3 linked regions of the Homo sapiens genome follow. The protein of the gene in region 2 interacts with the protein of the main gene of each other region in a pairwise test. Each region holds a gene or a part of one and is shown on either strand. Other genes may lie near its edges. The genes, in order: MAP2K4, STX17 and TLR2.

Evidence for each region.
Region 1: the proteins of STX17 (region 2) and MAP2K4 interact in a two-hybrid assay, tested with the Homo sapiens proteins (one large-scale study listed by BioGRID and IntAct).
Region 3: the proteins of STX17 (region 2) and TLR2 interact in a two-hybrid assay, tested with the Homo sapiens proteins (one large-scale study listed by BioGRID and IntAct).

What each region holds. Positions count from the first base shown.
Region 1 is NC_000017.11:12,027,235-12,030,895, reverse strand, and holds part of MAP2K4 (dual specificity mitogen-activated protein kinase kinase 4), read right to left. Parts: intron 1-3,661. UniProt on the Homo sapiens protein: Dual specificity protein kinase which acts as an essential component of the MAP kinase signal transduction pathway. Essential component of the stress-activated protein kinase/c-Jun N-terminal kinase (SAP/JNK) signaling pathway.
Region 2 is NC_000009.12:99,962,109-99,965,769, reverse strand, and holds part of STX17 (syntaxin-17), read right to left. Parts: intron 1-3,661. UniProt on the Homo sapiens protein: SNAREs, soluble N-ethylmaleimide-sensitive factor-attachment protein receptors, are essential proteins for fusion of cellular membranes.
Region 3 is NC_000004.12:153,703,995-153,706,896, reverse strand, and holds the end of TLR2 (toll-like receptor 2 precursor), read right to left. Parts: coding exon 1,635-2,902; 3' UTR 637-1,634; downstream 1-636. UniProt on the Homo sapiens protein: Cooperates with LY96 to mediate the innate immune response to bacterial lipoproteins and other microbial cell wall components. Cooperates with TLR1 or TLR6 to mediate the innate immune response to bacterial lipoproteins or lipopeptides.

The sequences.
Region 1 (3,661 bases), on a different chromosome or scaffold from region 2:
CCCACTGGAAAAGGGAAGGTAAAACTCACCTTCTACTACAACTGGAGAGGAGGCTGGGAAACAAACAACTTTAAAGCAAAATACCCTGATTGACTGTTACTAGGTAGCAAAAAGAAAGAGGTGAAAAGGAGAGAGAAGAGGTGAACAAAATAGTAATATGGATGGCGAAAGGAGCAAGAAAACAAATTTGTAAGGTATATGAAAAAGAAATCAGTTGGATCTATATGTAAGGTTGTGTTAAAAAAAGTTACATTGCTTAATAAGTGTATAATATATTAAAAATTTTAAGGTATATGTGACTGAGAATGACAGAATGTCGCCAATGATTGCTCTAACACATTAAAAGCTAAGCGCCAGTTTAAGTGTTAAAAAATTCTCAAAACCTGAAATTCTGTCACCAGTACAGAATCTATATAAGTAGCTACAAAGGAGGTGGGAAGGGGATTAAAATGTTCAAAGCATAAGTATAGACTTGTTCTTTGTATCTAATTATGAAGTGACCAGGTGAACGAATTCTGGGGTCTCATCCAAACATCCATCTCTCCACATTATTTCTCACTAAGAAAATACTTGGTAACTCGCCCAGAGTCCACTGACAAGCAAGGTCTAAATTAACTGGAACACACTGGCTCACCTTTTCTTTAGCAATTCTGTAACTTTCTTAACATTATTAAATTAGGGAAGAAGCGTTTTTAGTTAGTCTGTCTAAATCTTTAAGACCTGCAAAAGTCAGAAAGTTAGTGCTTATAGTGCAGATTTGGGAAAGTACCAAATAGCTCCACTAGCTCATACTCAAAGGGTAAGGATGGGCAAAGGGGACAAGCAACAGTCTTGCACAAGAGAAAGATGGTGGGAAGGAAAAATGAGGAAAACTTCCAATATCCTCAACTTTACAAAATGCAAGTTCTTAGTTATGATATAATATTCACTAGTATTCACTCACATATGTTCAATTTTTCTTTTTTTCTTTTTTTTTTTTAGAGACAGGGTCTTGCTGTCGCTCATGCTGGAGTGCAGTGGCATGATCATAGCTCACTGCAGCCTCAAACTCCTGGGCTCAAGCAATCCTCTCATCTCAGCAGGTGCAAGCCACTATGTCTGGCTAACTTTTGGAGTTTTTTGTTTTTTGTTTTTGTAGAGATGGAGTCCCAACATGTTGCCCAGGCTAGTCTCAAACAATCCTCCTGCCTCAGCCTCCCAAAGTTATGGGATTATAGGCATGAGCCATCTCACCTGGCCAATATGTTCAATTTTTGAAGTCTCCCTTGTCTCCGAAATTCTGACTTCCTATTCACTTACTTTAAGTCCTATCTCTGGAGGTACTAGATAATCCGTTGAACCTGTTGATAGTTAACTGGTTACATTTTAAGTCGTGTGTGCCTCACTTTTTTATATCTGGGTGAACTATCTGTACCCTGGGGCTTAATTTGACATGATCCTCCATTTATATTTTCCCCATTACAAGTAGGGGTAAATTTGAGTCTTTTTCATTTTTCCTGGCCCCAGGCAAGTTTAATTAAATCTTAGAATAAATATCAAGAATAATATTTATTTAAGAATTTAAATTCTTAATTCTTGACACTGATGAATCAATATCAAAATGCATAGGACAGAATGCTAGTAAGCCTATAAAAGAAATAAAGCTACATGAGGGTTTTTCCTCCTCCTTTTTCTCTCTACGTATCTCCTACCCTCGTTCCCACATTTGCCCCTCATTCTCACCCTCTTACCTCAATTTTAAGATCTTTTATGTGGCCATAACTTGAAACCTACAATTTACTGTTCTTACCAAATACAGTGAGGTAAGCGGCTGTTTAGGATGTGTAAGTGTTTATAAAAACAAAAAGCAAATGGTGTTCGATAAAGTAAAAAACAAAATGAAGTGTGTTAGGAGACCAGAGTTCTAGTTCCAACTGTGAAACTGAAGTCATTTCACTTGAGTCCTAGTTTTGTCATTTTTAAATAAAGAATATTATCTTAAGGGTTTGAAAACAGTGTGCCTAAATCTAATTTTGCTTGTGTAATGGCCATTATGAGGTTTTGTAGTTATCTCCATTCCCATTCCTCTAGGTTGATAATATAAATCAGAGAGGGTGTGGGGCCGGACATAAGTGGTTTCCTATCTCCTCAGTAGTTGCTTCTGATTCCCTGGACATTCTGGATTTTTGCACTGCTGAAAGTGCATTATGAACTACAATATGAACCCACACTAATGTAAAGAAAATCAGAGCTGCCTTACTGGGTCATGCCCATAAGACCGTGCTACAAAGTCTTTCCTCTGTCACAAGCATGAAGGGTCTATTTGTCTGACACCTTCAAACTTCCAACTTCAAAATTCTGGCATGTGCCTTAAACCACAGCTACCCATAGTATATCATTATGGCTCTAACATGTAAGGCGTTATCTAAACCTACCCTAAATTTGTATTTTCATTGTACTCAGAGCAAGTTCCCCAAGATTTATTTCCTGATGGTTTATTTCTTTCAGATTTCCTTATGTCAACTTTCTGAAACTATCAAAAGGGAGCCACCCTAAGTTAGCAATTCCAGGTTGTTAGAATCATCCACCAGTCAGGAGTTGATAAAATACTCATCAAATCCCTTCCACACTTTTTAAATTCAAGTGTCCTCATAATGCCAGCTCTTTTTCTCTCTTTGGGCAATGACCACCTTATTTATTCTTTGGCCACAAAATTAAATGCCACATTACCTTCTCAAGCCTGTTTAATGAAGCACAGTACACTGAGACAGTAACTTACAATTATGTTCCTTCGGGCAAGTATCTAACTTCTATGAGCCTCAATTTCCTCATTTGTGAAAAATAAAATAATACCCAAAAGAGCTTTGTGATGATTAAATGGGAAAATATATCTAAAATGTCCAACCAAAAGCCTGGACTAAAGCAGGTTATTATTATCACAGGCACTATTATTCCTGTTCTCTCCCTCATGGGAGCAACGATTATGGCACCTTCCCTATCTTTCTGGTGCTCACCAGACCAGCTTAACCTACACAAAACCAGTCTTTCTCCTTTCATTCACAGTCACCTTGAGAGAATTAAAAGGGAAGGACTCCAAACAGCCCTGGAGATCCACACCCCACCCTCTACACCTCTGCCACAACCCTTCCTAGGCACAGCCTGGTATCCTGAGGACTCTAACAACCCCAAAAAGATGGATGCTTCCCCATGACAGGCACATAACCAGATCCCAGGGAAACTGCCAAAATCATCAGGGGAGCTCCTTAATGTCACTGATTTCTTCAGCAAAGCCAGGCAATAAATAGACATAGGCATGTCAGATATATATACATCTGACATATATATATCTCAGATATATATGTCTGGTAACACTTTGCTTGATTCCTCTTTTTTTAAATGTTTGAACAATTTGGTGTCTGTGTGTGTGTGTGTATGTTCAGATATATATGTCTGGCAACACTTTTCTTGATTCCTCGTTTTTCAATGTTTGAGCAATTTTGGGTAAAATGAAATACAATATAGCTCGAAAAAGCTGCTGTGATGTCCATTTTAATCCTCTTTCTCCGTGGTGGAGAATAATGTGTTGTTCTTAAAGAACCAAGCTGCATACAATGTAATTGTTTTCTTCATTCAAAAGGCCCACCTTGAGTTGTGTAAACTACTGGCTAATCATCTCCCTTTC
Region 2 (3,661 bases):
TTTTCTTTCGGTGCTTGAAAATTCTAGGACACTAAAACTTCAGGTATCTTTTAGCATTCATTCAATCATTCAATTTTTATTTTCCTCAATAGCAAAACTTATTTAAGTCAGCTTTCTTTTTCTGACCCATAGAAGAAAAAGTTCCAGCACTAATAATATACAACTTGTCTAGATTTCTGACACCCTATCATTGTTTCTATTTAGGACACCCCCAACACTTTCCACTCTTGCCTGAAACAGTCTATGCTAGCAGATAAATCACAGGCTTAAAACTCTACCATCAGCCGTCATATGTTGATGAGTTGAAAGGTAGAGGAAAAATAGTCAGTGTCTCCCTTCCTTCAGCCCCAAAATAATTCCAGCAAGAGGGAGGAGCCTGCCAGGATTATTGCCATTTCTATACCCCAAGTGTAATCGTAAAGCCTCAGGGAAATACTTTCTAATGTTCCTTCCTTTAAAAAGGGTTGGATATTGTACTTCTATGACTTTTTAAAAATTAAAGCAAAATTTTAAAATAATTTAAATATTTTTTCATAAAAATCATTTGGAATAACTGAAGAAGCAACCACAGGCAAAAAACCAATCCTGAGATCACTAATTATTTGAACTACAAAGTTCCCCATCATTGCAATCACCAGCATTTGATGAGGCCCATCCCACCCTGGGGAGTAGCCCACATCTATAAGTATTTATTCATGCCATCAGAAAGCATGCTAAGATATGGGGCTGGGGTGTGGGAATAAGGCAGAGGGCAGACAGCCCCTATCCTGGGATCAATAATCACCCCTCGATTGTGCACGTCTGCCTTTCTCTTGTCCGTATTTTGCTTGGTTTGCAACTTCAAACTTTGCCCATATCTTCAAATTCTGCTTCTTGAGTAAGGAGGACTCACTGACCCCCACAAAGGTTACAGTTAGGCAGCAAACTATTGTCACAGAGTTGTCAATTACCATCAGCAGAATGCCAAACCAGACTCCATACAGAGCTGAATTGGGTCACTACCTGTCCACTATGTCCTTGGCTCTTTTTGTGGGACCAAAAGATACATATACAACCCTGCCCCAGCCTGTGAAATCAAGCTCTAAACATTAATGGTGGTGCAGGAGCCTCCTAACCTCTATCTATCAATCTCCCCTGAGGTTTTGCTTCTGATTTGCTCATGTTTATTTTCATCTGCTTAGGCCTCCCACATTTGACAATCTTCAAATTCCATACCTGCCATTTTATAGTTTGGCACCCCATATATGTTCTCAGCATTCCTTTAACAATGAGCTAAACCATATTTAAGTGTTTAGCTCATTACACTGCAGTGTTTCTCAAGCTAGAGTAATATACTGACCTCCTTTTACAGAAAAAGAAAATTCTCAAATGACTCTAAGAATATGTCTACGGATTTCATTTTAAAGAACATTGAATTAAGTCCCCCTATTGGCCTGAACATAACAAATCTTGACGAACAGCTATAGGAGTACCTAAGTTTCTGTATAAACTGTGATTTATTATACTTGTCAAGCAGAATGCAATTTGGGAATATAAATTCAAAACCAATGAACTGTTTTGTTCTTGAATGCCTGTTGGGGACACTTGTAGGCCTAGCATCCTCTATGTCAAGCAATAATAATACATTCAAAAATTAACCCCCAAATCCATTTATATCATTAACAGTGGTCTTCCATAGAGAGTTCTGATAGTAGTTGTAAAGTTTAAGGTTCTTGGAAAGCTACGAGTTTATTTAAGAGGGTAATACCAAAACTCCAGGTACGTCCATTTATTCCTCTCTAAATTCCAGCCAGCCTTCAAGGCCAAGTTCTAATCTTAGATCTTGACCAATCCTGTTCACATTGAGCTATTCTGGTTCTAAACTCCTATGATATATTCTATATACTCCTTAATCATATGCAATCATATACACAAAAAGGCCCAGAAACAAACTTATAAATACTATGATATATAGGCAAAATAAGTGATTATATTGGCTTCGAGTAAGCAATAAGCAGAGTAGATAAGTAGGATGTTGCTAACAGAGGATTCAGCAGTTGGAAAGGGACTGAAGGAATTCCAGTACTAAAATGCCTAAGGATAATAGTGGTGGAAAAAGTAGAATTTTTGCAAGGAGCCAAACAAGGAATGAAAATAAAGGAAGGACAAAAGTGGGAATGCAGTTGGGGTCAGTGGAAGGGAACAGAATGGGAAGTACTTAATAATACACATTACCTCATTTAGTCCTCCCATCAGTGTTATAAAGCTCATTGTTGTCAAATAACATCCTGAAGGTCACATAGGTAATAAATGAAGGAATCTGATCTAATCCATTGCAACCAGTTTTTATGTTTCCAGAGTAAAACTGGATTACAAAAACGACAGGGAATAAGGCAAAAGGCAGAAGTCAAAACAGACTAGCAGCAAGGGTGAGTTGTTACTGAACTACTGGCCCAGGGTTCTTTAAATTCTCCTTGACTAGAAATAGGGCTAGTTACAAAGTTATAGGGAGAGAAGAGGGCACTTGAACAACAAAGGCTGAAGAAAAATAGAGCAGGGTACCTAGTAGATATTAATTTATTAACATTTATTGTACTATACCTTGATCTGTCAATGGCTTTGTAAGTTCTTTTTATAGTGGTAAAATAAATATAACATAAATTTACCATTTTAACCATTTTGAAGTGTACAATTTAGTGGCAATAAGTAACTTCACAATATTGTGCAACCACTATTACTATCTTGTAAGTTTTTTAAATGCTTTTTTCTATTCCTCATTAAGCTTAGCACAGTGCTACGCAGATAGAAAGTGTTCCTTAAATACATGGTTAATTTGTCTAGACACTATCATGTCCATGTGATGATAATGAGAGGATGTGGTCACTCTGGTTATGTTCCTAGGTCATTCTGTGCCTAAATAGAGCTTCTGTGAATCCTTGGCCATGTGGTCATGAGAACTTAGTCACCCTGGGAATAATAATCAGGGGTTCTCCTTTGAGCTTTTGCTTATTAGCATTCTGTCTCATGTACTTAAACAGATTATTACAAACAGGACATTTGTATAGAGCTGTGGCTACAGCCAGAGTTTTCCTACACAAATCTCCCTTAGATTAGAGGTTATGAGCTGCTTACATAATATAATCAAACATGTAACTATCTTATGGTCACAGACCTTTAATATTTCTTTTATGTGCCTATCCCAGTAGAAAAGAAATGTGTTTGTACTGAGTAAGAACTTTGTACATGTGTAGTTTGTTTTTTAAAATCAGCTTTATTGAGGTATAATTTACATATATTAAAACACATTTTATGTGTACAGACCAATGACTTTTGGCAAGTGTATATATTTGTGTAACCATACATGTATAGGTTTTACAAACTGCACTGGATTCAGAGATTATTAGTTTACAATAGTTGAATAAATGTTGATTCTGAAACAACAGATATTTTGGGATTCTTGTTCTATTATTTCCTTCTGTTTGCGAGTATATTAATATTGTACAGATACCTAATCCAGAAACTTCAAATATTTTGCTTCTTCTAACTTAGAGGCATCCAGAAGCAATTCAAACAATTTACTGCATTCAATTTTAGGTAACACATTTCAAGAAAATATTCAGAATATGGAACATAAGCATAGTAAGAAGCCAGTATTGAGAAGCCTAGAAATTATATTGTAGAA
Region 3 (2,902 bases), on a different chromosome or scaffold from region 2:
TTACTTACATTCCTACATTTCATACTCTCAGTATCTTAGGATATAGAGATCATCATCCCTATTTTAAAGACAGAAAAACTTTTTGGGTCATGTCAACTGACTTGCCAAAGATTACACATCTACTAACCCAGGTCTTTCTGACTCTAGTGCCCAATTAACCACATACACCCAGTTCTGGTTGAGAATTGAGCAGGGGTCAAAGGCTCACTTCCTTTCACATGGTTCCCAGCTTAAGAAAGTTACATAGAATCAGCAAATAGTGCTTACCAAAGAAAGTTGCATCAAAATTTAATGTGTGGTATTATTATACCTAGATTGCAAAATTAACATATGGTAGTAGTATCTACCTTTAAATTACTGTGTATCAAACTATTTTTGAGTCATTATGAGGAAACTCTAGGTATATATTTGCTTAAAAATCTATTTAGCTCACATGTACTTTTTAAAATATTCAGAAGGGGAAAAAGGGCAGGCTTTTTTAGAATTAAAAACAAGACTTTTCGAAGAAGGAAAAAGCAACAAGATGCAGGAGATATAGGCTAAAAAACAGGAACTGAGAGTCAGAGTGATTGGACAATAACTAGAACTCAAAAGGTAGTTAGAGGCTGAGGAAGACCAGAGTCCGGATGTGGGAAGTGTCTTTCAAATTCTCCTAAACTGAGTATTTATTTTGTTAAATTACAGAAATACATAATTTACTGTACCTTGCACTGTGTACTCACTCTCTCAAGTAACTATGGCTGGAGAAACCTATCTAATAGCCAGAAAGACAGATCCAGATCACATGAAAATACACCCTCTAGTATTTCTCATCCTGTAAAGTTTAATAGGAAATACACAGCACTTTTTTCTAGGAATAGCAACAAGTTTTGGGGAGTGCCCCAAATACTTTGCCTTGTTGCTCTTGAGATCAGCTGCACAGAGAAGTGACAGCTAGGTAGGACAGAGAATGCCTTTTGTGGCCACAGAGGAGTCTCTTAGCAGGAAGAAAGAATGACACAGTCATTGAGAATCTTAAGTTCATTTGTGCTGTTTCCTAATGAACTAAGCCAGTTGCTACAGATTACAGTTGGCCCTCTATATCCATGGGTTCTGCATCCATGAAGTCAACCAACTGTGGATCAAAAGTATGTTTTAAAAATTTTGAAAATAAAAAATAACAATAATAATATAAATAAAAAGACAGTACAACTATTTACATAGTATTTACATTGTATTGGGTATCATAAGTAATCTAGAGATGATTTAAAGTATACAGGAGAATGTACACAGGTTATATGCAAATACTATGCCACTCTTATAAGGGACTTGATCATCTATGAATTTTGATATCCACGAGGATCCTGCAACCAATTCCCTTGGATACCAAGGGACTATATTCAGATATCAGTAATAGACTTATGATCATGGTTATCTCATAGAAAAAAGAAAAACCAAAAACCAATTTTTAAATCTGGCATATGTTTATAAAACAGCACCCCAGACAAAATTTGAAGTTTTGTAGTTTTAGTAAGCAAGTCCTCAAATGACGGTACATCCACGTAGTTTTTATATAATTATGTCTGAATGAACTTAACTATAACTAGTGACATAAAGATCCCAACTAGACAAAGACTGGTCTTAAATATGGGAACCTAGGACTTTATCGCAGCTCTCAGATTTACCCAAAATCCTTCCCGCTGAGCCTCGTCCATGGGCCACTCCAGGTAGGTCTTGGTGTTCATTATCTTCCGCAGCTTGCAGAAGCGCTGGGGAATGGCTTTTTTCTCAATGGGCTCCAGAAGAATGAGAATGGCAGCATCATTGTTCTCATCAAAAAGACGGAAATGGGAGAAGTCCAGTTCATACTTGCACCACTCACTCTTCACAAAGTTTTCAGAAAGCACAAAGACAGTTTTGTGGCTCTTTTCAATGGAGTCAATGATATTGTCAATGATCCACTTGCCAGGAATGAAGTCCCGCTTATGAAGACACAACTTGAAGGGGGGATTGAAGTTCTCCAGCTCCTGGACCATAAGGTTCTCCACCCAGTAGGCATCCCGCTCACTGTAAGAAACAAATGCATCATAGCAGATGTTCCTGCTGGGAGCTTTCCTGGGCTTCCTTTTGGCCTGGAGCCAGGCCCACATCATTTTCATATACCACAGGCCATGGAAACGGTGGCACAGGACCCCCGTGAGCAGGATCAGCAGGAACAGAGCACAGCACATGCCAGACACCAGTGCTGTCCTGTGACATTCCGACACCGAGAGGCGGACATCCTGAACCTGCTGGCCACGCACATGGGATGGAGAGTCACACAGGTAATTTGCTGGCCAATCAATCAAGACTTTGGCCAGTGCTTGCTGCTCCTGAGTGAAGGAGAGGAATTCACAGGAGCAAATGAAGTTATTGCCACCAGCTTCCAAAGTCTTCAGTGTGTGAAATGAGTCAAGTTGCTCCTTAGAAAACGTAGTTATTGCATTCCTACTGATTTTCAATACTAGTAACATGGGTAAGAGGGAGGCATCTGGTAGAGTCATCAACTTATTTCTGGAAATATAAAGTTCTTTGAGTTGCGGCAAATTCAAAGAAAATAAATTGAGATTGTTGTTGCTAACATCTAAAATTTCCAGTGTCTTGGGAATGCAGCCTGTTACACTGTGTATTCGTGTGCTGGATAAGTTCAAATATTTCATCTTTTCTGGCCACTGACAAGTTTCAGGCATAGAATGAAAACTATTCTTACTGATATCAATGTTAGTCAAGTTTTTCAGAGTGAGCAAAGTCTCTCCGGTTTTTTCCAATGATGCCAAATGATTTTGCCTTAAAATTAAAGTTTGTAGAGAGGGCCAGGCATCCTCACAGGCTGAATTTTTCAAGTATTCTTCAACCATCAAATTTTCACTGAGATCCAAGTATT